Linked DNA regions of Homo sapiens: regions 2, 3 and 4 are each linked to region 1. Evidence: fine-mapped expression QTL. A gene starts in region 1. Each other region holds a variant in brackets. All regions are shown on one strand. Distances are between the middles of the regions.

What was found.
Region 2: its variant is fine-mapped to the expression of RGS10 in monocytes after LPS (Kim-Hellmuth 2017, PIP 0.95).
Region 3: its variant is fine-mapped to the expression of RGS10 in whole blood (TOPMed, PIP above 0.99).
Region 4: its variant is fine-mapped to the expression of RGS10 in whole blood (TOPMed, PIP 0.96).

Annotation. Positions count from the first base shown.
Region 1 is chr10:119,539,577-119,545,316 of GRCh38, reverse strand. RGS10 (regulator of G protein signaling 10) reads left to right here and starts at 2,598. Exons shown (of 5, transcript NM_001005339.2): 1 at 2,598-2,727. The coding sequence starts at 2,679. RefSeq lists enhancers at 835-1,343, 1,606-1,685 and silencers at 1,896-2,055, 2,106-2,175, 2,186-2,925, 2,976-3,145.
Region 2 is chr10:120,351,502-120,357,412 of GRCh38, reverse strand. It overlaps the pseudogene RPL21P16. Among named protein-coding and RNA genes, the nearest start is that of PLPP4, 100 kb to the left of the region's middle. The variant AG/G (reference allele first, on the strand shown) is at 2,769.
Region 3 is chr10:119,579,888-119,585,798 of GRCh38, reverse strand. It overlaps TIAL1 (TIA1 cytotoxic granule associated RNA binding protein like 1), which reads left to right. Exons shown (of 12, transcript NM_003252.4): 3 at 3,242-3,340; 4 at 3,576-3,630; 5 at 3,790-3,877; 6 at 5,789-5,864. Among named protein-coding and RNA genes, the nearest start is that of TIAL1, 14 kb to the left of the region's middle. The variant G/T (reference allele first, on the strand shown) is at 2,924.
Region 4 is chr10:119,488,788-119,494,698 of GRCh38, reverse strand. No RefSeq gene overlaps it. Among named protein-coding and RNA genes, the nearest start is that of RGS10, 51 kb to the left of the region's middle. The variant G/A (reference allele first, on the strand shown) is at 3,035.

The DNA.
Region 1 (5,740 bases):
AACTGTGCACTTAAACGTTAACCATGCATTTTTTTTTTTTTTTTTTTTGAGATGGAGTCTTGCTCAGTCACCCAGGCTGGAGTGCAATGGCTCGATCTCAGTTCACTGCAAACTCTGCCTCCCGGGTTCAAGCGATTCTCCTGCCTCAGCCTCCTGAGTAGCTGGGATTACAGATGCCTGCCACCGCGCCTGGCTAATTTTGTATTTTTAGTAGAGATGAGGTTTCACCATGTTCGTCAGGCTGGTCTCGAACTCCCGACCTCAGGTGATCCGCCCGCCTTGGCCTCCCAAAGTGCTGGGATTACAGGTGTGAACCACCGCACCCGGCCTTTTTTTCCTTTTTTTGGAGACAGAGTCTTGCTCTGTGGCCCAGGCTGGAGTGCAGTGGTGAGATCTCAGCTCACTGCAACCTCCTCCTTCAGATCTTGGCTCACTGCAACCTCCTCCTCCCAGGCTCAAGTGATTCTTCTGTGTCAGCCTCCTGAGTAGCTGGGATTACAGGCACCTGCCACCAGGCCTGGCTAATTTTTGTATTTTTAGTACAGATGGGGCTTCACCATGTTAGCCAGGCTGGTCTTGAACTCCTGACCTCAGGTAATCCGCCTGCCTCTGCCTCCCAAAGTGCTGGGATTACAGACGTGAGCCACAGCGCCTGGCCCTAACTATGCATCTTAATTTTTGTACTTACTCTCTGATGTGCTAACAGGACAGTAAAAGTGATTTAAGGCTGTTATATTTTCCCTTTATTTAAGAGATGCCTGGGGTTCTTAGCTCAGGAGGGATTCATAGCATGTCTTAAGCCACACCAGTGTTTTTCAGGACACGCTAGGGTGGACTTGGCAACTAGCAAAACACTGAGCTGCTGTGCCTAACTTTTACCCCTGTGTGCCAGTGTGCTTATTTCCTGTCTTAGGATTACTTGTAATTTGGTCTCGGGGAAGTTTTCTGGGTGAGTGCGTTGCACCAATTCCCTTATTGTTTTAAGAACGCAGTGACCTCACTTGGATCCAGGACTCTGCCAGCATTTAAAATCCCGCTCTTACGAAAGGTGAAACTCTTGCCTATAGTTAAGTATCACAGCTTGATCCCATTACAATGAGATGGAAGTTTGTCTGGGCCCGGAGTAGGCCAACAACAGCAGTTTTAAAAGCAGAACTCCCCGCGCTGGGTCTAACCCTGTTCTTGGTCACCGCGTTCGCTTCAGGAGCCTGGAAATCCTCTTTTGGCAGCAGAAGGGGGAGAGTGCTTGGAAATGCTCGGAGGAAAACGACTTTTGGAGGGGGAATAGCGGGGAGGGAAACAACAAGCAACCACCGGCCACACTTGGGGTGCAACTGGGGCTGTGGGGTGGGTAGAGGGAGAGGGAAAGTGAGCAGAACTGGAAGCTCAGAATAGAAGATACAAAAGAAAGTGCCAAGTAGTGAAAAAAACTGCAAAAGGACGGGGGGATGGGGGGAGGGCGACTGGGGAACGGTTTGGAAAAATAGCAATTAGTACAGCTAAAAATAAAGACCAATTTAGAGACAAAGCCAGATACACAAGGAGAAAAATAAAACTCGCCAGAAAGACAATTTCTTGCAAACCAAATGTTCAAGAAAATGGGGGCTAATGACATCCCCTCTGGGGCTGCTCCATAGAAGAAATGAAATAATAGGAGACCGTAGAGCGCGCAGCGCCCAGCAGGTGACGCCGTGGGGGCTTGAGTGGTCCCGGTCGTGGAGCCTGAAGGCCCTGCCAGAGGCAGTGCCCACGTGTCCCCAAAGTTAGAGAAGTGTCCCGAGAGCGCGGTGTGCGGGACAGAGCACCGCCCGGCGCAGGAACCGGGGGGTTCCTGCAGAATCCTCTCAGATCTCCCCGAGTCCTGGCGCCCGCGCGGCACGGCCGGGGAGAGGGCGCCCACCCGCGGCGGCTCGGCTAGCTCAGCGCACGGGCCCTGGGGACGCCCCACCCGCATTCGCGGGGCGGGAAGGCGCAGCGCCCACGAAGTCGAGGAGCAGCCAGGCCCCAGCAGGCGGGGATCCTGGTGACGAGGAGGCAAAGGCCACAGGCTGGGCCGCGCCCGGACTCTGCAGAACCGCGAGGCCTAGGCTTCCCAGCCTGTGACCCGGGAGGGGACCCCGCCCGCCACCTGCGAAGGCTCGCTGAGAGCCCCGAAGCGCGGTGCGCCCGCGGCGCCGTGCCAGTTTCTCCGGGGCTACAGGGAGAAGGCGGGAGACCGCGATGGGCCCGGGAGCTTGAAGCTGGGCGGGGCGGGCCGGGGCGGCATCTCAGGCGAGGGCCAGGGACCCCGGGACGCGCTAACCGCCTCCGCGGGGCTACTAAGTTCCCGGCGGCGCGGGCTCCCTCTGGGCCAGTGCACCTTATCCCAGGCGCGGGGCACACTCTGGGCGATCGGGGGTCACCCGGGGCTGCCCTGCCCTGCCCCGCCCGGGCACCCCGGAGCGGAACCGCGAGTCCTCACCAGCGGGGGCGGGCAGGGCGCACTGAGCGCGCCACGCGGCGCCTGGCTAGGAGGAGGGCGGCGGGCGGGGACCTAGAGCTCCGGGGCGGTGCTGAGCCCGCTCCTCCTCCTTGCCCTCCTCCTCCTCCTCCTCGCCCTCCTCCTCCTCCTCGCCTTCCTCCGGCTCAGCCGCCGCGCCGCCGGGCTGCTCCTTCTTCCTCCTCGGGCGCCCGCGGCGATGTTCAACCGCGCCGTGAGCCGGCTGAGCAGGAAGCGGCCGCCGTCAGGTAAGCGGCTTCGGGGGCCCGCGGGCTCGGGGTCGGGGCGCCGTTTCGCCCGCCCGGCCTCCTGCCCTCCCTCTTGTGCTCGGGCGCGGCTCGGTGGTACCTCCCAGACTGGAGCCCCGGCCGACCGCACCACCTCTCCCCGCTGGGTACCGCACCTTCGCGGTCCCAGCCGCGACGGGAGCGCAGAGCTCCTCCGGGAGCCCCGGGGAGGAAGTTTGGCTGAAAGAGGAACAGCCGCAGTTTTCTTTTTAGTGATGGTCTGGGAGAAAAAGGAGCGCCCCAAATCTCCAAACTTTGGAGGTGACATGGGGCTCCAGATTCCGAAAGCGGAACGGCGCGCGGGCTTCTCCCTCCGTGACGCTCTCCGCCTCCGCTGCGGGCGTGGGTGGAAGGATGCCGAGCGCCCGGGGGAGCACGGCTGGACCCGGGCATCCGACTGGGCCCCTGGGCCTGGGGCGTCGGGGGCCTTCGCTTCTGCCGCGAGGAGCCAAAAGGTGGGATCGCGAGGGTGGCGGAACCCCAGGATGGAGAAGGGCACTTCTGCGGTCCGAGCCAGCGAAGTTCTGACGTTACGAAGGATTCGCCTTGGCCGTCACTTTGGGCCAGCCTGAGCCACGATCTCGGGCAACTTGATAGGCCAAAGACCCCACGGTGAAGGTGGAGCCGTGCCCTTGATTCCGGTCCTTCCACCCTTTTGCTCATCACAATAGCTACGACCTGTGCAGGCCTTTGGGTGCGCCAAGGGCTTTGTCCACCGCGTTGGGTGAACTCTCCCTTCACCCCTAGGACAACCCGGTGAGTGAGGAGGGAGCGGAAGCCAGGCGCTGTTAGGTAACTTGCCCCAGTCACACTCCGCAGGTGATGGGGAGGCTTTCAAACCCAGGTTCCCCTGACTCTGAAGTTCGGGGGCTTTGCCGGGCTTCCCACGCCAAGATTCACTTCTGCTTGGCGCTCAGAGTCCCAACGCGTTGGTGCATTTCCTTTCTGCTCCTGGTATTTTATGAGGGACATTGTGGTTTAGAGACTGGGACCAGACTGGCTGGATCCGAATCTCACCTTCGCCATATTCACCAGCCGTGGGACCTTTCTGCAGAATGAGGTTCTGCACAGTGGGAATAACAGTAGCTACTCGCCTTTTAAAGTACTTAATTGGAACCTGTCTTCCATCCATCAGGTTTTGCAAATTATTGTATTTAATATGTAGGATTTCATAGGGTTGTTGTAATGATCTTACATTGTTGCCCGGCAAGTACTAAGTGCTCCGTTAGCGTTAGTGGTCATGTAAACCTTTTTGTGTTGCATGTGAGTCAAAGAATTCCCTTGTGGGTGTTAATGTTAACCAGTCTCTATGGTTGGCACAGGCCTGTGGAGCGCTGCTCAGAGCCTGGACTCGAATTAAACTCTTGGTTCTAACCTTGACTCTGTCATTCAGCAACACTGGGCAAATTACTTGATCTCTCTGTGCCTCCGTTTCAGTGATGTGCTGGAGCTGGCTCAAACTGGCTTGCAAGAGCCAGTTGCCAAATATTCAAAAAGTTTGGAAACTGGTTGTAAACCATAGGTAGCTTGAAAGTAGTTATGATGGGATATTTACATCATGAAAATCAACAAAGCTAAAAATGAAGGCTTCATTTTGACTCAGGAGAGCTGATGTTCCAGCACCTTTCTCCACCTGCAAAGTGGGTTTCATAGGGTTATGGGATTAAATACTCAAAACCATATGAAGCCCCTAGTACAATGTGTGGCACATAATAAAAGTGTAATAATTAGTAGCTTTTCTCCCTTTTGCCTGTTATAAATAGAGCTGCTATGAATAGCCCTGTACGCGTTACTTATTACTTTAGATTGCTTTTGGGTTGAAGACTGACAGATAGAACCATTGTATCCTGGGAGATACATGGATTTGGGGTGATTTTGCGTGTAGCCAGGTTGCACCCCAAAAAGGCTGAAGGCAGTTTTAGGGAACAAATTATTTCAGGGCAACAAATTTTAAACCTCATAAAATGTGGTTACATCACTGACAGAAAGGTCGGTCTCAGGCCGGGCTCAGTGGCTCACACCTGTGATCCCAGCACTTTGGGAGGCTGAGGCAGGAGGATTGCTTGAGCCCAGGAGTTCCAGATAAGCCTGGGAAACATGGCAAAACCCCGTCTCTACAAAAAAATTAAAAAATTAGCCAGGCATGGTGATGCGTGCCTGTAGTCCCAGCTCCTTAGACGGCTGAAGTGAGAGGATGGCTTGAGCCTGGGAGGTTGAGGCTACAGTGAGCTTAGATCGTGCCACTGCACTTCACCCTGGGTGACAGAGTGAGATCCAAAGAAAAGGAAAGAAGGAAGGAAGGGAGGAAGGAAGAAAAAAGGAAGGAAGGAAGGAAGATCAGCCACTAAACATCATGGATTGGTACTGGATGCCTCCACTCCAATAGCCTGATTTTCTTTGGAATTGTAGGTGTAGGGTCTTTCCCCATTATGGAAAATAACATAAGTTCTTGCCTGACTGGTCATCACCACCCAGCCGTGTGAAAAGAAGAAGCCTAGTGAGAAAGGGGTCATTTGGGCCTGTGGGCCGAGGTACTGAGAAGACAGCCAAGTGATTTTTGGGACCCTGTACTTAATTTTTTTTTTTTTTTTGTAATTTTGAATTATTTTTCTTAAAGAGGATCCTCAAATTGTATAAACTTCAGGCTCCACAAAAGCCAGAGCTGCTCCTGCAGGACCCCTGATTTGGACCTGGCTGTGGTCCTGCCTCCCCCAGTACCTTCTATTTTACACTTTTCCTACCTTTCAGCAAAATCTCACTGGAGACACTGTCTTTCCGCGGAGGATTTTGAGTTCCTAACCCCTCCTTCCAAGGTTCAGAGTGGGATTTCCTTATTCTTCCTGAGGTTTCTCAAAGTGTGTTCCACCCGTCCTGTGGGTTCAGGAGGGCTTTGATAAAGTGCAGCTTCTCAGGCCTTGCCCAGACTGATTCAGTGTTGGGGACTGTAGGTGGGGCTTGTCTTTGACAAGCACCC
Region 2 (5,911 bases), 810 kb before region 1:
AAATTAGCCAGGTGTGCTGGCGGGCGCCTGTTGTCCCAGCTACTCAGGAGGCTGAGGCAGGAGAATAGCGTGAACCTGGGAGGCGGAGCTTGCAGTGAGCCGAGATCGCGCCACTGCACTCCAGCCTGGGCGACAGAACGAGACCCTGTCTCAAACAAACAAACAAAAAAGAACATAAACCTCAAGGAAAGAAATCCCAGCTTCAGATCTCTGAAGAATAAGTATGGTACGGAATATCATTCCATTATCTCAGCTACTTTCCCTCAGTGAAAACTTTCATCAGAATTCCAACCACGTTTTAATATCTGTGTTTAAATGAATATGAAATAATTTAAATATAAATCAAGTGAGGTCATTGAAAGTTGAGACTCAAATCAGGCAATGTACAGGGAAGGCTGGAACTGTCTAGTATATGAAGGTTATCTGAGACTATCAGTCAAGGCTCTCCAGAGAAATAGAGCCAGTAGGATAGATATAAATAGACATACACATGTATACACATACAAATGCATATAATAATTAAAGAGATTTATTTATTTTAAGGAATTGGCTCATTTGATTGCGGGGCCTCACAAGTCTGAAATTGACGTGGTCAGTAGGATAGAAGCTCAGGCAGGAACTGATGCTGCAGTATTGAGACAGAATTTTCCCTCTGGGAAATCTCAGTTTTTGCTCTTAAGGAAATCCCCTTATTTGAAGCCAATTGCTTATAGATGCTAACTACATCTACAAAATACCTTCATGACAACACCTAAACTACTGTTTTGGTTAAATAATTGGGTACTATGTCCTAGGCAAGTTGACACATAAACTGACCCTCACAGAGACGTAGCAGGTCCCTGGGATTCTTTTTAAGGATTTCCTCCATGCCATAATCCAGCCAAGTGAATTATTTTTCAAACTACAGGGATTATAAAAAATAATTTGATTAATCACATTCCTCCACTGCATTCATTTTGTCAAATATACTTGTAACTTTACATATGTAGATATACATATATACATCTATGCATATATATACACATATATATATGACTCAGGCATCCATTCGTGCACACACATATACAAACACACATATATATCTAGTATGATACAACATCACTTTCAAATGCACTCCACATGCATCCAAATGGATTCCAAAAACCCTTTTCCTGCTCATTTGCACTCCAAACTAGCTGTACTTTATGTGAACATTTTAAATTACTTTTCCTATAGATGATGCTGTTGGGTTCATTACATCTCCCTTTTCTTGTCACAATGGTGATATTCAACTTGGATTTTCATTACAAGCCATTTTCTGGTTATTGTTTAGAGCCTGGAAACTAATCTGCTCTCTGCCTGTCCCTCAGACATCAATGGTTTTGCCATATTGAAATGCAAAAAGAGAAACAAAATATGCTATTTCATATGTAAGTTGTGACTATAGGGCAATAGGAAGTTTGTTGTCAATTAGCCTTTCATTTAATTACTTTGGCAAATGTGATTTTTTAAAAAACTAGACAAGAAAATCAGTTCCTGCTTCTCAACAATGAACATGGGTCGGACCACTATTACACAACACTTCTAAGAGATGAAGCACAGTGGGTCTTAATTTCTAGTATTTCCAGAGAGCTTATTTTTGAATGAAAAATAACAAAAAACCCCATCAGTGGAATTCCTTACTCAACCAATCCCCTTTTATTTATTTCTTCCAGACAGTATGATGACCATTCTGTTAGCTAATACCCTGGATGAGCTGTAATTCAGAGCGATTTAATTAGCTTTAATAATAGCATCCATGCTTAGTCCTTCTGAAGATTCATTGCAACATGAGGGCATAAATTGGCAAATGTCTACAGTAGGGAATGCCTGGTTATAACTCTCACCTCTGGACTCTCATAAATTCAAAACAGCAGTATCAGTCTCTTCCATCTTCAGTTTTCAATGGATTTTTCTCTCTCAACTTTCCAGGTGACGAATGACACCTTCTTTGGTCTATCTAATACTCAACCTACTGATATTGTTGCAGAAACAAACTTCCCTGGTTTATCCAAAGCATATTTCTCTGCTTTGAACTGATATTTATGTAGGCCCTTTTCATGTGAATAAAAAGTTTGCTAGAACAGACATAATCTAAATCCATGTTTACCTGTGATTTGCCTTGAAGAAAGCCAAATGGTTTGTCTGCCTCAGCTCAAGAATGAACTTTCCCTTTCGGCCGGAACCGCCATCTTCCAGTAATTCGCCAAAATGACGAACACAAAGGGAAAGAGGAGAGGCACCCGATATATGTTCTCTAGGCCTTTTAGAAAACATGGAGTTGTTCCTTTGGCCACATATATGCGAATCTATAAGAAAGGTGATATTGTAGACATCAAGGGAATGGGTACTGTTCAAAAAGGAATGCCCCACAAGTGTTACCATGGCAAAACTGGAAGAGTCTACAATGTTACCCAGCATGCTGTTGGCATTGTTGTAAACAAACAAGTTAAGGGCAAGATTCTTGCCAAGAGAATTAATGTGCGTATTGAGCACATTAAGCACTCTAAGAGCCGAGATAGCTTCCTGAAACGTGTGAAGGAAAATGATCAGAAAAAGAAAGAAGCCAAAGAGAAAGGTACCTGGGTTCAACTAAAGCGCCAGCCTGCTCCACCCAGAGAAGCACACTTTGTGAGAACCAATGGGAAGGAGCCTGAGCTGCTGGAACCTATTCCCTATGAATTCATGGCATAATAGGTGTTAAAAAAAAAAATAAAGGACCTCTGGGCTACAAAAAAAAAAAAAAAAAA[AG/G]AATGAACTTTCAACTCTTTTCGCTTGGGAAGAAAATGTTCCAGATCATTGGATCATTTTTGTTTGTTTGTTTGTTTAATAATTTGGAGTTATTTTTATTCAATGATTTCTACTTAATCTGGAAAATAATGAAAGCTTTTGTAATGAGACAATATTTAGAAAGATTAACCAGTTTATATATTTGTCAATGGTTTTAAGAAAACAATTGGAAGGTGAATTTAAAAATAGAATGACTCCACAGATGCTTGCAATCCTCTCCAGCATTTCTTCTTGCCTGAATTTTGGGGAAAACAAAAAGCCATTTTAACTGGGGTAAGATGATACCTCGTTGTAGTTTTGATTTGCATTTCTCTGATGATCTATGATATTGAGCACGTTTTCATATACCTGTTTGTCATTTGTATGTCTTCTTTTGAGAAGTGCTTATACAGATCTTTTGCCCATATTTTAATTGGATTATTAGATTTTTCATATAGAGTTTGAGCTCCTTATGTATTCTGGTTATTAATCCCTTGTCAGATGGGTAGTTTGAAAATATTTTCTCTCATTCTTTAGGTTGCCTTTTCACTTCGTTGACTGCTTCCTTTGCTGTGCAGAAGCTTTTTAACTTGATGAGATCCCATTTGTCCATTTTTGCTTTGGTTGCCTAGGCTTGTGGGTTATTACTCAAGAAATCTTTGCCCATTCCAATGTCCTGGAGAGTTTCCCCAATATTTTCTCTTGGTAGCTTCATAGTTGGAGGTCTTAGTCTTTAGTCTTTATTTTGATTTGATTTTTGTCTACGGAAAGAGATAGAGTTCTAGTTCATTCTTTTGTAGATGGATATTCAGTTTTCCCAGCATCATTTATTGAAGAGACTGTCTTTTTCCCAGTGTAGGTTCTTGGCACCTTTGTCAAAAATGAGTTCACTGTAGATGTATGGATTTATTACTGGGTTCTCTATTCTATTCCATTGGTCTATGTGTTTGTTTTATTGCCCATACCATGCCATTTTGGTTACTATAGCTCTGTGGTGTAATTTAAAGTCAGGTAATGTAATTCCTCCAGTTTTGTACTTTTTGCATTTGGATAACTTTGGCTATTCTGGGTCTTTTGTGGTTCCACATAAATTTTAGAATTCTTTTCCCTATTTCCATGAAGAAGAATGTTATTGATGTTTTGACAGGAATTACATTAAATCTGTAGATTGTTTTGGGTAGTATGGACATTTTAACAATATTGATTCTTCCAATCCATGAACATGGAATCTTTTTCCATTTTTTAGTATCTTCAATTTCTTGCAATGTTTTATAGTTTTCATTGTAGAGATCTTTTACTTCTTTGCTTAAGTTAATTCCTAGGTATTTTATTTTATTTGTAGCTATTGTGAATGGGGTTGCTTTCTTGATTTCTGTTTCAGATTGTTCACTGTTGGCATATAGAAATGTTACTGATTTTTGTACGTTGATTTTGTATCCTGCAACTTTACTGAATTTGTTTATCAGTTCTAATAGTCTTTTGGTGGAGCCTTTAGGTTTTTCCAAATACAAGATCATATTATCTGCAAATAAGAATAATTTGACTTCTTCATTTCCAATCCAGATAGATGCTCTTCATTATTTCTCTTGTATGCCTTGCTCTATCTAAGGCTTCCAGTACTATGTTGAATAACAGTGGTAAATGTGGGCATCCTTGTCATGTTCCCAATCTTAGAAGAAAGACTTCCAGTTTTTCCTCATTCAGTATGATAGTAGCTATGGGTCTATTGTATATGGCTTTTGTTACACTGAGGTATGTTCATTCTATACCCAGTTTTTTTTTTTTAGAGTTTTTATCATGAAGGGATGTTGAGCCTTACCAAATGTTTTTTCAGCATCAACTGAAATGATCATATAGTTTTTGTCCTTCATTCTGTTGATATGAAGTATCACATTAATTGATTTGCATATGTTGAACCATCCTTGCATCCCTAGGATAAATCCCATTTGGTCATGAAGAACAATCTTTTTAATATGTTGCTGAATTCAATTTGCTAAGCATTTTGTTGAGGATTTTTGCATCAGTATTCATCAGGCATATTGACCTGTAGTTTTCTTTTTCTGCTGTGCCTGTGTCTGGTTTTGGTATCAGGATGATACTGGCCTCATGACATGAGTTTGAAAGTATTCCCCCCTCCTGCATTTTTTGGAATAGTTTGAGTAGGATTGGTACTAGTTCTTCTTTAAAAGTTTGGTATGGGCCAAGGGCAGTGGCTCATGCCTGTAATCCCAGCACTTTGGGAAGCCAAGGAGGGCAGATCACCAGAGTTCAGGAGTTCAAGACCAGCCTGCCCAACATGGTGAAAACCCATCTCTACTAAAAATACAAAAAAACAAAAAAATTACTACTCCTGCCTCAGCCTCCCGAGTAGCTGGGTTTACAGGTGTGTGCTGGGCATGGTGGTGTGCACCTGTGTAATCCCAGCTACTTAGGAGGCTGAGGCAGGAGAATTATTTGAACCTGGGAGATGGAAGTTGCAGTGAGCCAAGATGGCGCCACTGCACTCCCTCCTGGGCAACACAGTGAGACTCCATCTCAAAAAAAAAAAAAAAAAGTGTGGTAGAATTCAGCAGTGAAGCTATCAGGTTCTGGGCTTTTCTTTGCTGAAAGACATTTTATTATGACCTTGATCTCATTACCTGTCATTGGTCTTTTCAGGTTTTGAATTTTTTCATGGTTCAGTCTTGGTAAGTTGTATGTGTCTAGGAATTTATACATTTCTTCTAGATTTCCAAATTTATTGGCATATAGTTGCTCATAGTTGCCACTAACAATCCTTTGAATTTCTGTGGTATCAGTTGTAATGTCTCCTTTTTCATCTCTGATTTTGTTGAGTCTAATGTCTCTCTTTTTCTTAATTAGTCTAGCTAATGGTTTATCAATTTTGTTTATCTTTTCAGAAAAAAGCAACATTTTGTTCTGTTGATTTTTTGTTTTCTTCATTTCAAATTCATTTATTTCTGCTGTAACCTTTATTATTTATTTTCTTCCACTAATTTTGGATTTGGTTTGCTTTTGCTTTTTTAGTTGTTTAAGATGCATCCTTAGGTTGTTTAGTTGAAGTTTTTCTTCTTTTTTGATGTAGGCACTTATAGTTGCAAACTTCCCTTTTAGTAAGTACTCC
Region 3 (5,911 bases), 40 kb before region 1:
TTGAGCTCAACATGCAGTTTCAGTGGCATGGTTAGCTTGGAAGCTGACAGAAGTAGGTTTAGGAGAGAACGGGTTGTGAGAAAGTGGGGAAAGACTCACTAGAAAATTTTTGAGAAACATTTGTAAAGATTTATTTTAACTATTTTTTAAAACCCCATGTATACATACAGCTATTTGAAGGGTAGAGGGACTCGAAATGAATTTTCATAACATCCATATTCTAGAACTCCTAGATTTGAGCTTGTAAAGTCTCATATTTCTCTGTCTTGACATTTATGTCATCCAACAAAAATTGGTGACAACGCTAAATAAGGTAGGGACATAACGGATTTTTTTTTTTTTTTTTTAAGAGACAGGGTCTGACTCTGTCCTCCAGGCTGGAGTGCAGTGGCGCCATCATGGCTCACTGCAGCCTCCACCTCCTGGGTTCAAGTGATCCTCCCACCTCAGTCTCCCAAGTAGCTGGGACAGCACCGCCACACCTAGTTCATTTTTAAATGTGTTTGTAGAGATTGGTTTCACCATGTTACCAATGGTCCCGAACTTCTGGCTGGTCCTAAACTCCTAGGCTCAAGTGATCCTCCTGCCTCTGCCTCATCCTCCTAAAGTGCTGAGATTATAGGCATGAGACACTGCACCCAGCCATAATTGATTTTTTTTTTTTTTTTTTTTTTTTGAGATGGAATCTTGCTCTTTTGCCCAGGCTGGAGTGCAATGGCATGATCTCGGCTCACTGCAGCCTTGGCCTCCTGGGTTCAAGTGATTCTCCTGCCTCAGCCTCCCAAGTAGCTGGGACTACAGGTGCGTGCCATCATGCCCAGCTAATATTTTTTATTTTTTTATTTTTTGTATTTTTAATAGAGACAAGGTTTCACCATATTAGCCAGGATGGTCTTGATCTTCTGACCTCGTGAACCGCCCACCTCGCCCTCCCAAAGTGCTTGGGTTACAGGCGTGAGCACTTTTTTTTGAGACAGAGTCTGGCTCTGTTGCCCGGGCTGGAGTGCAGTGGCACGATCTTGGCTCACTGCAACCTCTGCCTCCCAGGTTCAAACGATTCTCCTGCCTCAGCCTCCTGAGTAGCTGGGATTACAGGCGCCCGCCACCACACCCAGCTAATTTTTTGTATTTTTGGTAGAGATGGGGGTCTCACCATGTTGGTCAGGCTGGTCTCGAACTCCTGACCTCAAGTGATCCAGCTGCCTCAGCCTTCCAAAGTGCTGGGATTACAGGTGTGAGCCACTGCACCCAGCCCATAATTGATTTTTAGGATGTCACTTGGTGGTGTAAATAAGAAGCTTCCAGAGGGTATAAACTCTAGCAGAGTATCTAGCAGCTATTTATTTTTCTTTCATAAATTTCATTTCAGTATGTGAAAAATCCTTTTTCCCCCATAGTTTTATGATTTTTTTTTTACTTTAGATGTTGTTATCATAGATTCTAGCTTTCCTTATATAATACAAATATATATTATTGATTCTAAGTCAAATTTTTTTAGAATTTTAATATCTGACAGTTGGGATGTGACTTAGAAATAAGTGGTGTCTTAAATTAGATGATATGCAGTGTGATGTGAATATATAAAATATGTGATGTCAGTGAATATATGTGTATATATACATGCACGTGCATACATTGATTGGGAGCTGGCCTACTATTAGATAGATTTGAAATTGGTATTCACGAGTAGACTAGTTTCCTAAAGTGTATGGGATTATCATAGATCTGCTGTTGGACCCCTGTATGTTTTGCTGTGATTATCAGTGTTTTCCTTAGAGACCATTGGGGCAAAAGAGATAGGAGTGAAAGGAAAACTCAACTAGCACAATTTTAGCCTCTTATTTATTTTGATGTCCTTTCTTCAATGAATATTTATGGTAAATGTAATAACTCTTTTACAAGAATTTAAATGTGTGTTTTCATTTGAAGTCTTCCCCCATTTCCTTTCTTTACCTCTTAAGAACAGCATTCACGTGGCTACAACAGTAGGATTTTGTATGAGAGCCCATAGTTTTGTTGTCAGTATTAACGATCCCACTTTTTTTCCCTCAAGGAAATGCCTTCTGGTTCCTTTGCCACTATTGTTTAGACGTCTTATTTTGGATTTTTCTTCTAAAACTTTCCTGGAATGAAAAACTGTTGTGGTTGAAAAGATCTTTATTTTATCTGGTATATTTATCCCTTGTAAGTCCAACTAGAATTCCACATTTTAAATATTATTCTTATAGGGCATTTTACATTGAATAATGATGAATGTTTTTAGCCTTACATAAAAATATGTATTTGTACAGTTGTGCAGCTATTCAGTACAGGTTGCAGTTTCATAGAAATTCATTTCTAGTTTGGTTGTCAGGTGAGAATGTTGCTATAGCTTAGGTAGTACTACTTTCTTCACATCTTTATAAATGTGTTTTAGGTAACTACTGTCAAGCACAGGGTTGCAGAATATATTTAATATAGATTTTTTATATGGTGTTCTTATGATGTAAACTTATAGCTTTGTCTTGGAATATTTTATTCAGATACATTTTCAGAACCTCTTTTCTTGATCACCACTGTTATTTCTCTGATCTTTGGAAGACCAAATTCAAAGTATATAGAATCTTCAGTACATTAGACTATTTTGGAAGGTAGGGAATTCATTTCAGTAGCTGGTTATAAAGCTTAAGTTTTCTTGTTTTTATTTTCATTCTTTCCATATCCAGAAAAGAAATCAATAAAATTCAGTCTTTGTAGCAGCATAGAATTCCATCATTTGTAGTATTGATCCTAATTTTGATCAGTAGTTTATGAAGTTGGTTCTTGCTGTATTTCTGTATCCTGGGATACCACTTATAGAGGATTATGATGCATAAGTAGAACGTAATTTAAAAATAATATTGGAGAAGGAAAGTAGTGGTAAGGAGTGGTCCTCATCAGATCT[G/T]AGTTTGAGGTTTTGTTTGGTTTAATATAATCTTCTATTTTATATTTAACACACTTCACCAGAATTCTTTATTTTCATTTAATACTGATGCTCATGATTCTACAACTGCTTTTATAGTTCCGTTTGAGTTCAGCAGTATTCTGAGGTGCAAAGTCAGGTTTAGCTTTAAATCTTATTTAAAAAGTGTTAGGCTTTCATAAGCTTATGCAGTCTCACCTTGTATATTCCCAGCTATCAGTAATGTTTTTTCCTGGATTTTCTTCTCAGCAACCCGATAGCAGAAGGGTCAACTCTTCTGTTGGATTTTCTGTTTTGCAGCATACAAGCAATGACCCATATTGCTTTGTGGAATTTTATGAACACAGAGATGCAGCTGCTGCATTAGCTGCTATGAATGGGAGAAAAATTTTGGGAAAGGTAAGATAATAGGATGATGGCACCTTATGAGTACATATATTTGCATGTCAAACTAGTTTGTATTCTTTCTAGGCAAATTTTTGAGCAGATATTCGGCTGCTGAGTGATGGTTTTGCTTTATTCAGCTTAGTGCTTTTACAAAAATAACCCTGCTTGATAAATGATTTAATAAGTGGTAAGTGTTGTAACTCATGACATGCCTAATAATTTTATTAAATATAATCTTTATTTTTAGGAGGTCAAAGTAAACTGGGCAACCACACCAAGTAGCCAGAAAAAAGATACTTCCAGTAAGTACTCCTGCTGCATTTTACTGTGGAAGAGTTCTGAAATTATCCAGGAGGCATTACCAGCTTAAATAGGTTTTTTTTTCCTCCTCTAGAGTTGCCTTAAAAAGGTTTTAGTGGCTGACTTCTTAAGTATTTGATTACCAAATGCTCTGATTTCAGATCACTTCCATGTGTTTGTTGGGGATTTGAGTCCAGAAATTACAACAGAAGATATCAAATCAGCATTTGCCCCCTTTGGTAAAATATCGTAAGTATCATAATCAGTACTACACTCAGTCATGATAGGCAGAATTGTATATGATTAACTTGTAATTGAATTAAGATTTTCTTTCTCTAGTTAGTATGGTTTTGTTTTGTTTCTTATTTTTCATTTATTTATTTTGGTTTGTTTTGAGTAGTGGATGTTGTTGAAAATGTTAATGTCATTTCAGTGTCTTGGGGTCTCGTTTTCATCTAATCCTGTGTATAATATGTTAAAAAAAATTTAAGTGATTCTGTTTGTTATCTTTGAAGCAGATGTTTGAATGGTAAAACTTATAAAGTCTAGCTTTTTGTCATATGTTTTCAAAATTTGATGGTTTAGGATAATGAGTTAATCAAAAGTAAATGTGATCTATACTGTGTAAGAGTTCAATAACTTTTATAGGAGGAATTTATAAATGGGGGAGAGTAGGTAAATCCTTGGATATATTGTGATTAAATTGGAAATGTTCATGTTTTATTATGATAAATGTGTTTTTGATATTTTAGCTATAAGTGAAAAGTACTATTATACTATTAAAATGTTTCAATGTATGAGTCATAAATGTGGGATTAATTAGATGTTTTTGTTAGTGATATTTGATTCTACTAGTTAAGAGGCAAATGTGGTTTGATTTTTAACAAATTTATGCTCAGATTTTACTGTTGTTACTTGGTAAAAAATATATTGGAAAACTAAAAATGGTTATGAATTGTAGAAAATGTTTATCATAATTTATCTTTCTGATTAAAATCAGTTTATTTTGTATATTTCCTGTAGATTTAAATTAAACATCTTAGTACTACTTTACAGGAAAGTGTTTCAACTAAGAACAACAATATTTTCTCTATACAATTTGTTGTTCTATAGATTTAATTTCTTTAAAAGATGTAATTCTTAACTTTCTGTTTTGATATTTGCTTTGCTTTTTAATCTAAATGTGGTAAGTAGTACTATTTTAAAAATCAATATAAAAATAATACAGGTTGCTGTTTTTCAATCTTTATTTATACCTGAGACCTGCAGTTTTTCTTAAGTCCAAGTCACAATTAAAAGTAATAGCATTCTGGTTATTTTGCAGAATTGCTCATAAGAATGGACAGGATCTTGAAGGCTAACTGCAAGGAACTGTGCACACTGGAACTCAGTTGTAGATTTTTTTTCTCATTTCTATTTATTCTTATTATACATTATTTATATATACATATTTTAGTATTTACATTTTAACATTCTATATTCAGTGGAGTTCTATATTTCCAATCATTTAACTTACTCACTAAAATTTCTGTGTAAATTTGTTGTTTTCGTACTGGTGTGCTTAGCATTGTTGTTAGTTTTTTATTCTCCTTTCTTAAATTTCTGAAAATGTCAATTTTTCAAAATTTACAGCTGCCCAAACTCCAAAATGATGGTAGAGAATTGACCAAGAAAAATAAAGAAATCTGTTAACAGGCCATGTATGCCTTTTTAATTCCTATTTTTTCCTCTTTTTCAATTTTTTAATATTTCATATATTTTGTATCACTAGGCAGAAGACATTTAACTATTTAGAGATTGCATGGTAAAGTAGTTAGTATTGTTACAGTAATTTATAGAATCAGTAAACCTTAGAGGACACTAGTAAATAGAATATTAGAAAGGGAAACTGTTGTTCCTATTAATCTTCAAATTTGAGCATTTAGTTTAGAAAGCACAGGCTATTTGATTAGGTTGCATGTTTATTACATGTTTTTGTCCTACTGCTTTTTTCTAACAGGTAAAGAAGCATTAGGGAGAGTTCAGGAATGGTTGTAGTTAATTAGGGCTAACTGGAATTTTATTTTAAAAATGCTCACAATACAGTGTGTGTGGTTCCTTTTAGTTTTTATTTTGAGGGTGGCTCTTACTTCCCTCATTTAGCTGTGCTTCTTTTCACAGGGATGCCCGGGTAGTTAAAGACATGGCAACTGGAAAATCCAAAGGCTATGGTTTTGTATCTTTTTATAACAAACTGGTACGTTCTTCCATCTCAATTTATATTTTTTAATACTAAATTTAGTC
Region 4 (5,911 bases), 51 kb after region 1:
TTTGGGAGGATGCTTTGTTTACAATCTTTGCAAACTACTCATGACTCACATTCTGTCATTATTTACTTTCATTTTGGCTGCAGATGTTCTAGAACTTGCATTTATTTAAGTGCTAAATAGTCTTGTAACATTAGCTTCCAGGGTTTTAAAAACTCTTTTCTTCACAAGGTTAGTTGCGTCCAATGCAGTGAGTACTGTAAAAAGTCTGGTGCCCAGGCAGGGAGGGAAGAAACTTCACACACAGCTGGAGCCAGGGGTAGAATCACTGTGTTGAAATGGTCCCTAAACCTTGGGCAGAGCCCAGGGCTCCCCTTGGATTGCCACAGACACTACAAGCTTTGCAAGTCCAAAATTGACCAGGTCTCTGAGTGAGAATCAGGGGCTTGAGCAACTTCGCACTTGCAAGGGAGGGTCTCAGGGTGAGGGTCTTGCACGGGTGCCCTGTGCTGCATGCTTGTTTAGAGGAGCCCTTTTCCTGATTCCCACAAGGCCACTGGGTAGGGGCAGCTGGAAGTGGCCTGAGAGTCTCCTCTGTCCTGCACTTCGACATCTGATCATCAGAAAGTCCTCTAGATTCTTCTCCAAAATATAGCTTCACCGTGTCCATGCCTGCCATCTCCATGGCCACGGGCCCTGACCAGGTCACCTCATCTCTTGCCCAGAGGCTCCTCCTCCTAGCTGGTCTGTCCTCCTCACGCCACACCCCTGCTCCTCATCTTCATCTAGTATCCTTCTTTTTTTTTTTTTAAGAGACATGGTCTCACTCTGTTGCCCAGGCTGGAGGGCAGTGGTGTGATCATAGCTCACTGCAGCCTCAAACCCCTGGGCTCCAGTGATCCTCCCACCTCAGCCTCCTGAGTAGCTGGTGCTATAGGCACACACCACCACACCTGGCTAATTTGTTATATATATGTGTGTGTGTGTGTGTGTGTGTGTGTGTGTATGTGTGTGTGTATATAATATATATATATATATATATATTTTTTTTTTTTTTTGTATAGATGGGGGTCTCCCTATGTTGCCCAGGCTGGTCTTGAACTCCTCACCCTAAGCGATCCTCCAGCCTTGGCCTCCTAGAGTGCCGGGATTACAGGTGTGAGCCATCGCGTCTGGCCTAGTATCCAGTTTTTTAAAAGAACAAACCTGGTCATGCTGCTCACTCTTCTTAAGCCCCTTTTGTGTCTTTTTCTTGTTCTCAACATCAAAATTCAGATCATAACCAAGGCCCGGGACATGTAGCTCAGTCCCACCTCACCCTCCATCCTCCACGACTGGCCCTTCCCAGCCTCACAGGCCTGAAGCCGACCGGAAGCAAGGCAGGATGTTGCTTCCCGCAGCCTTTGCGTGGGCCACGGCCAATGCGCAGAGTGGCTTCCTCCAGACCCTGGTGTGGCCGGCTCCTTCTCATCCTTCAGGTCTCAGGCTGTGTGTTAGCTCCTGAGGAGGGGACCGAACCCCTCGAGGCAGCCCCTTCCCCCTCATTCACAGCCTGCCACCCCAGGGCTGCCCATTGCTCATGGCCAATCCATGCCTTTGTCATAAAAACACAGATTGGAGGCCGGGCGCAGTGGCTCATTCCTGTAATCCCAGCATTTTAGGAGACTGAGACGGGCAGATCACTTGACGTCAGGAGTTCTAGACCAGCCTAGTCAACATGGTGAAACCCCGTCTCTACTAAAAATACAAAAATTAGCCGGGCGTGGTGGTGGATGTCTGTAATCCCAGCTACTTGGGAGGCTGAGGCAGGAGAATTGCTTGAACCTAGCAGGCAGAGGTTGCAGTGAGCCAAGATTGTGCTACTGCACTCCAGCCTGGGAGACACAGTGAGACTCCATCTCAAAAAAAAAAAAAACAATAAAAAAAACACAGATTGGAGGGAGAGAAGCCCACCCTTTCATGAGCACCTCCCCTGTGTGCAGGAGATGTGACTTCCACTGTGTCAGTGGAGAAGTGAGCTCCAGCAGCATTGAAACTGCACTAGGTCACCACGACTCATAGTGGGGCTAGGACTGGAACCCAGGTCTTTTGGATCCCCAGAGCCCACCATCCATCACTACACCAGGCTGGGCTTATCCAGCTCAGGCAAATCTTTGGTCATTCCTGCTGGAAAATGTGACTCTGTCTCTGTTCTCCCAGGAAGAAGGCTACTACCCAGCCAGTCTTGGCCCATTCTACCCTTTCCTCTATGGGATACACAGAGGGCCCCGGCCCCAGCCAGGGAGGCAGAGTCAATGCTTCTTTAAAAAGCCTAGTTTGTGTTTGCAACCAGTTTTGTTTTTTGTTTTTTGTTTTTCCTTTAGTGATATATCATGAGCATCTTTCCATGCCAATAAACATAATTATATACAATCCAAAAAAAAAGGCCTGTTTTGAGATTATCTAGGAAAGATAAATGTTTCCCTTGTGCTAATTCCAGCACCGTTTATATGCTGCTTTGCAACACAGGCAAACTGTTTTCTTCTTCTTTAAGCATTTAAACTCTGTTTTTTAAACTGTTATGGCATACAGATCGCAAAGAGTAACAGATGTCTGCCTGATAGACTTGTTTCCCAGGAAAAGAATCTGCTGCTTCTTGGTCTCCAGAGGAAGGATGACTTTGCAAGTATGTGGCTTTTGGTCTCCTTCTGCCCCTCTCACCCCCATAAGAATGGGGGAAGAAATAGAGCACCGCAGACTGCCTCATAAATATCTGTGTCTACAGATCCTGGCTGATTGCAGAGGCAGAGGCGAGACTCTGATCTCCCAGGAGGCTGTCCCTGTGCCTCCCAAAGGGAATATTTCTCTCTTTTTTCCTAAAGGAGCGAGGTCACTCATCATGACCTGAAAACATGAAAATGTGGGTCCACCTTTACTAAATTTGCAGGTTTCCCCAGAACCTTAGCACTAAAAGAACCTCTGTCAACTATCATCATCATTATTATTATTTTTGAGATGGAGTCATGCTCTGTCACCCAGACTGGAGGGCAGCAGTGCACTCTTCGCTCACTGCAACCTCTGCTTCTGGGTTCAAGCAATTCTCCTGCCTCAGCCTCCC[G/A]AGTAGCTGGGATTACAGGTGTGCGCCACCACGCCCGGCCAATTTTTGTAGCATTCGAAGAGATGGCGTTTCACCATGTTGGCCAGGCTGGTCTCAAACTCCTGACTTCAAGTGATCCACCCACCTCAGCCTCCCAAAGTGCTGGGATTACAGACACGAGCCACTGCGCCTAGCCTCATTATTTGTTTATTATTATTATTTTACTATTGGTTAGCATGAGAATTGTGGTTATGTTCATGTCATGAAGTTCAACTGCCTAAATTCTATCCCAGCTCCGTCGCTTATTAGCCCTGTGAGCTTGCGTAAGCCATCATGGATCTTTTCAAGCCCAAGTTTTCTCAATTATTAGATGGGATAATATTGGTCCCTATGCCTTAGTCTGTTTCATCTGCTATAACAAAATACCTGGGTAACTCAAAAACAACAGATATTTATTGCTCACAGTTCTGGAGGCTGGGAAGCCCAAGATTAAAGACACTGACAGATGAGGTGTTTGGTGAGAGCCTGTTTCTCATCCATGGTGCCTTTTATGTCCTCACATGCTGGGCACATGCTCAGCTGGAAAGGGCAAGCAAGTTCCCTAGGGTCTCTGAGCACTGATTCCCATTCATTCAGGTGCCGACCCAGAGCCTTCATGACCTAATCACCCGCGAAAGGCCCTGCCTCTTTTTTTTTTTGAGATGGAGTCTCGCTCTGTCACCCAAGCTGGAGTGCAGTGGCATGATATGGGCTCACTGCAACCTCTGCCTCCTGGGTTCAAGCGATTCTCCTGCCTCAGCCTCCTGAGTAGCTGGGATTACAGGCATGCGCCACCACGCCTGGCTAATTTTTGTATTTTTGGTAGAGAGGAGGTTTTGCCATGTTGGCCAGGGTGGTCTCGAACTCCTGACCTCAAGTGATCCGCCCGCCTTGGCCTCCCAAAGTGCTGGGATTACAGGTGTGAGCCACTGTGCCCCAGCCGGCCCTGCCTCTTGATATCATCACACTGGGGACTCGGTTTCAACATGTGAATTTGGGGCGGGGGTCGGGGGCGGCACAAACATTCAGACGCTAGCACTATATAAAATCCAATGAGATAATACATGCAATGTGCGCAGCACAGTGCCTTGCGCACAGCGGCTTAATAAACCTTGGTGATTATTATGAGGCCACCAAACCAGGGATAGGTCGTGTGGTCTGCCTAAGGTGCGCAGGGAAGGGTAGCAGATCCCGGCCGGGTCTGACTCCTGGATCCTTGCCTGGGACTCTTTCACTGTCCCCCCAGTCCCCCGCACACACATGCACACGATGTTACCCCGCGTTCGAGTCGTGATCGACGGGCAGCCAGCTGGACCTGAATGTCATTCAAATGATTGCAGGCTCGAAACCAGGGGTGGGGGGGCTCTCAGGAGAGGATTTGGGCCCAGAAGGGGACATGCAGGGGGAAGCCAGAGAAGTGAGAGGGAGATCTGAGTGGTGGGTGCCCCAGCAGCGTAATATGGCTCCATTTCCAACCTGGAACCAGGTTGTTGCCTCTCCAGACATTTTGTGTCCGAAGGAAGGGGAAGGGAATTCAGTAGACATTCTTTGGAGGAGCCTCTTGGACTTCGGTGACTTTTTCTTGACAAGAACCATGGTCTCCTAGGGCAGAGCTGCCCACATGCTTTTCTGGGAGGTCCCGGGCTCCCCAGGCTCCTTGGAGTAGAAGGAAGTCTGGGGACCCCCGAGAGCCTGCCTGAAATTCCTGGCTTGAGCTCACGGGGGAGCTGGTGAGCTGTGGAGGGAGGCAGCTCCCGGGGTTCTTGCGGGTCCCTGCAGCACGGGAGGACCCTCCAAGGCCCTGGGCACCCATCCTGGTCAGACCGTCCCCTCCCACCAACTTTTCTCCTTGTCTCTCCCAGAAGGGTGCCCTGGGGAGACCCTCTCCCCAGAGGCTGGGACTGGGCAGGAAGGTGGGGCAGCTGCTCCCATCCTTTCTGCCCCGCACAGTTCAGGCAGTTCATCTTCGGGCAGGAAGATGAGGTTTCGAGGTACTTCCTGGGCTTGCGCTGACGTTTTTGACTACCGTCCCCGCCCCCACCCCGCCCCACTCTCTAGTTTGGCCTCTGCTGGCTCCAAAACCCTCTCAAATATCCCACGAGGGTCATTAGTGGGAGACCTTTGTTCAGTTCATTCATTTTTTAAATCAATGCTATATATTTTTTTAATGCTCGGAAACAGTGTTTTGATGTGAGTTTATTACTTGAAGAACTGCAGGACTTTGTACAACAAACTGCCTGATACTAAAGTTATATTAACAAAGAGATCAAGAAATGACTGGCTGTGTGCACAGAGGCTTAAAGGTTTAGTGTGGCTGAGATACTAAACGTCTCTCTTTCCCACCACTTTATTTTATTTTTATTTTTGAGACAGAGTCTTGCTCTGTCACCCAGGCTGGAGTGCAGTGGCATGATCTTGGCTCACTGCGACCTCCATCTCCTGGGTTCTCATGCCTCAGCCTCCCAAGTAGCTGGGATTATAGGCGCATGCCACCATGCCTGGCTAATTTTTGTATTTTTAGTACAGATGGGGTTTCATCTTGTTGGCTAGGCTGGTCTCAAACTCCTGACCTCAGGTGATCCACCCGACTCAGCCTCCCAAAGTGATGGGATTACAGGTGTGAAGCACTGCACCCAGCCTCCCATCACTTTATTTTAAAAGTGTATTTCCAAATCCTCGTCTTCTACCTCGGGGTGGTCGTTCCAAAATGTTTTATTTCTGAAGCTTCCCAGATAAGCAGCTACAATTTCACTCTTTCCTCCCCAGCTCACTGGGATGCATTTTTTCTTCTTCTTTTTTTTTTTTTTTTTTTTTTTGGTGGAAGGAATTTTTTTTAAAAAAACTAAGACGTACCTAATT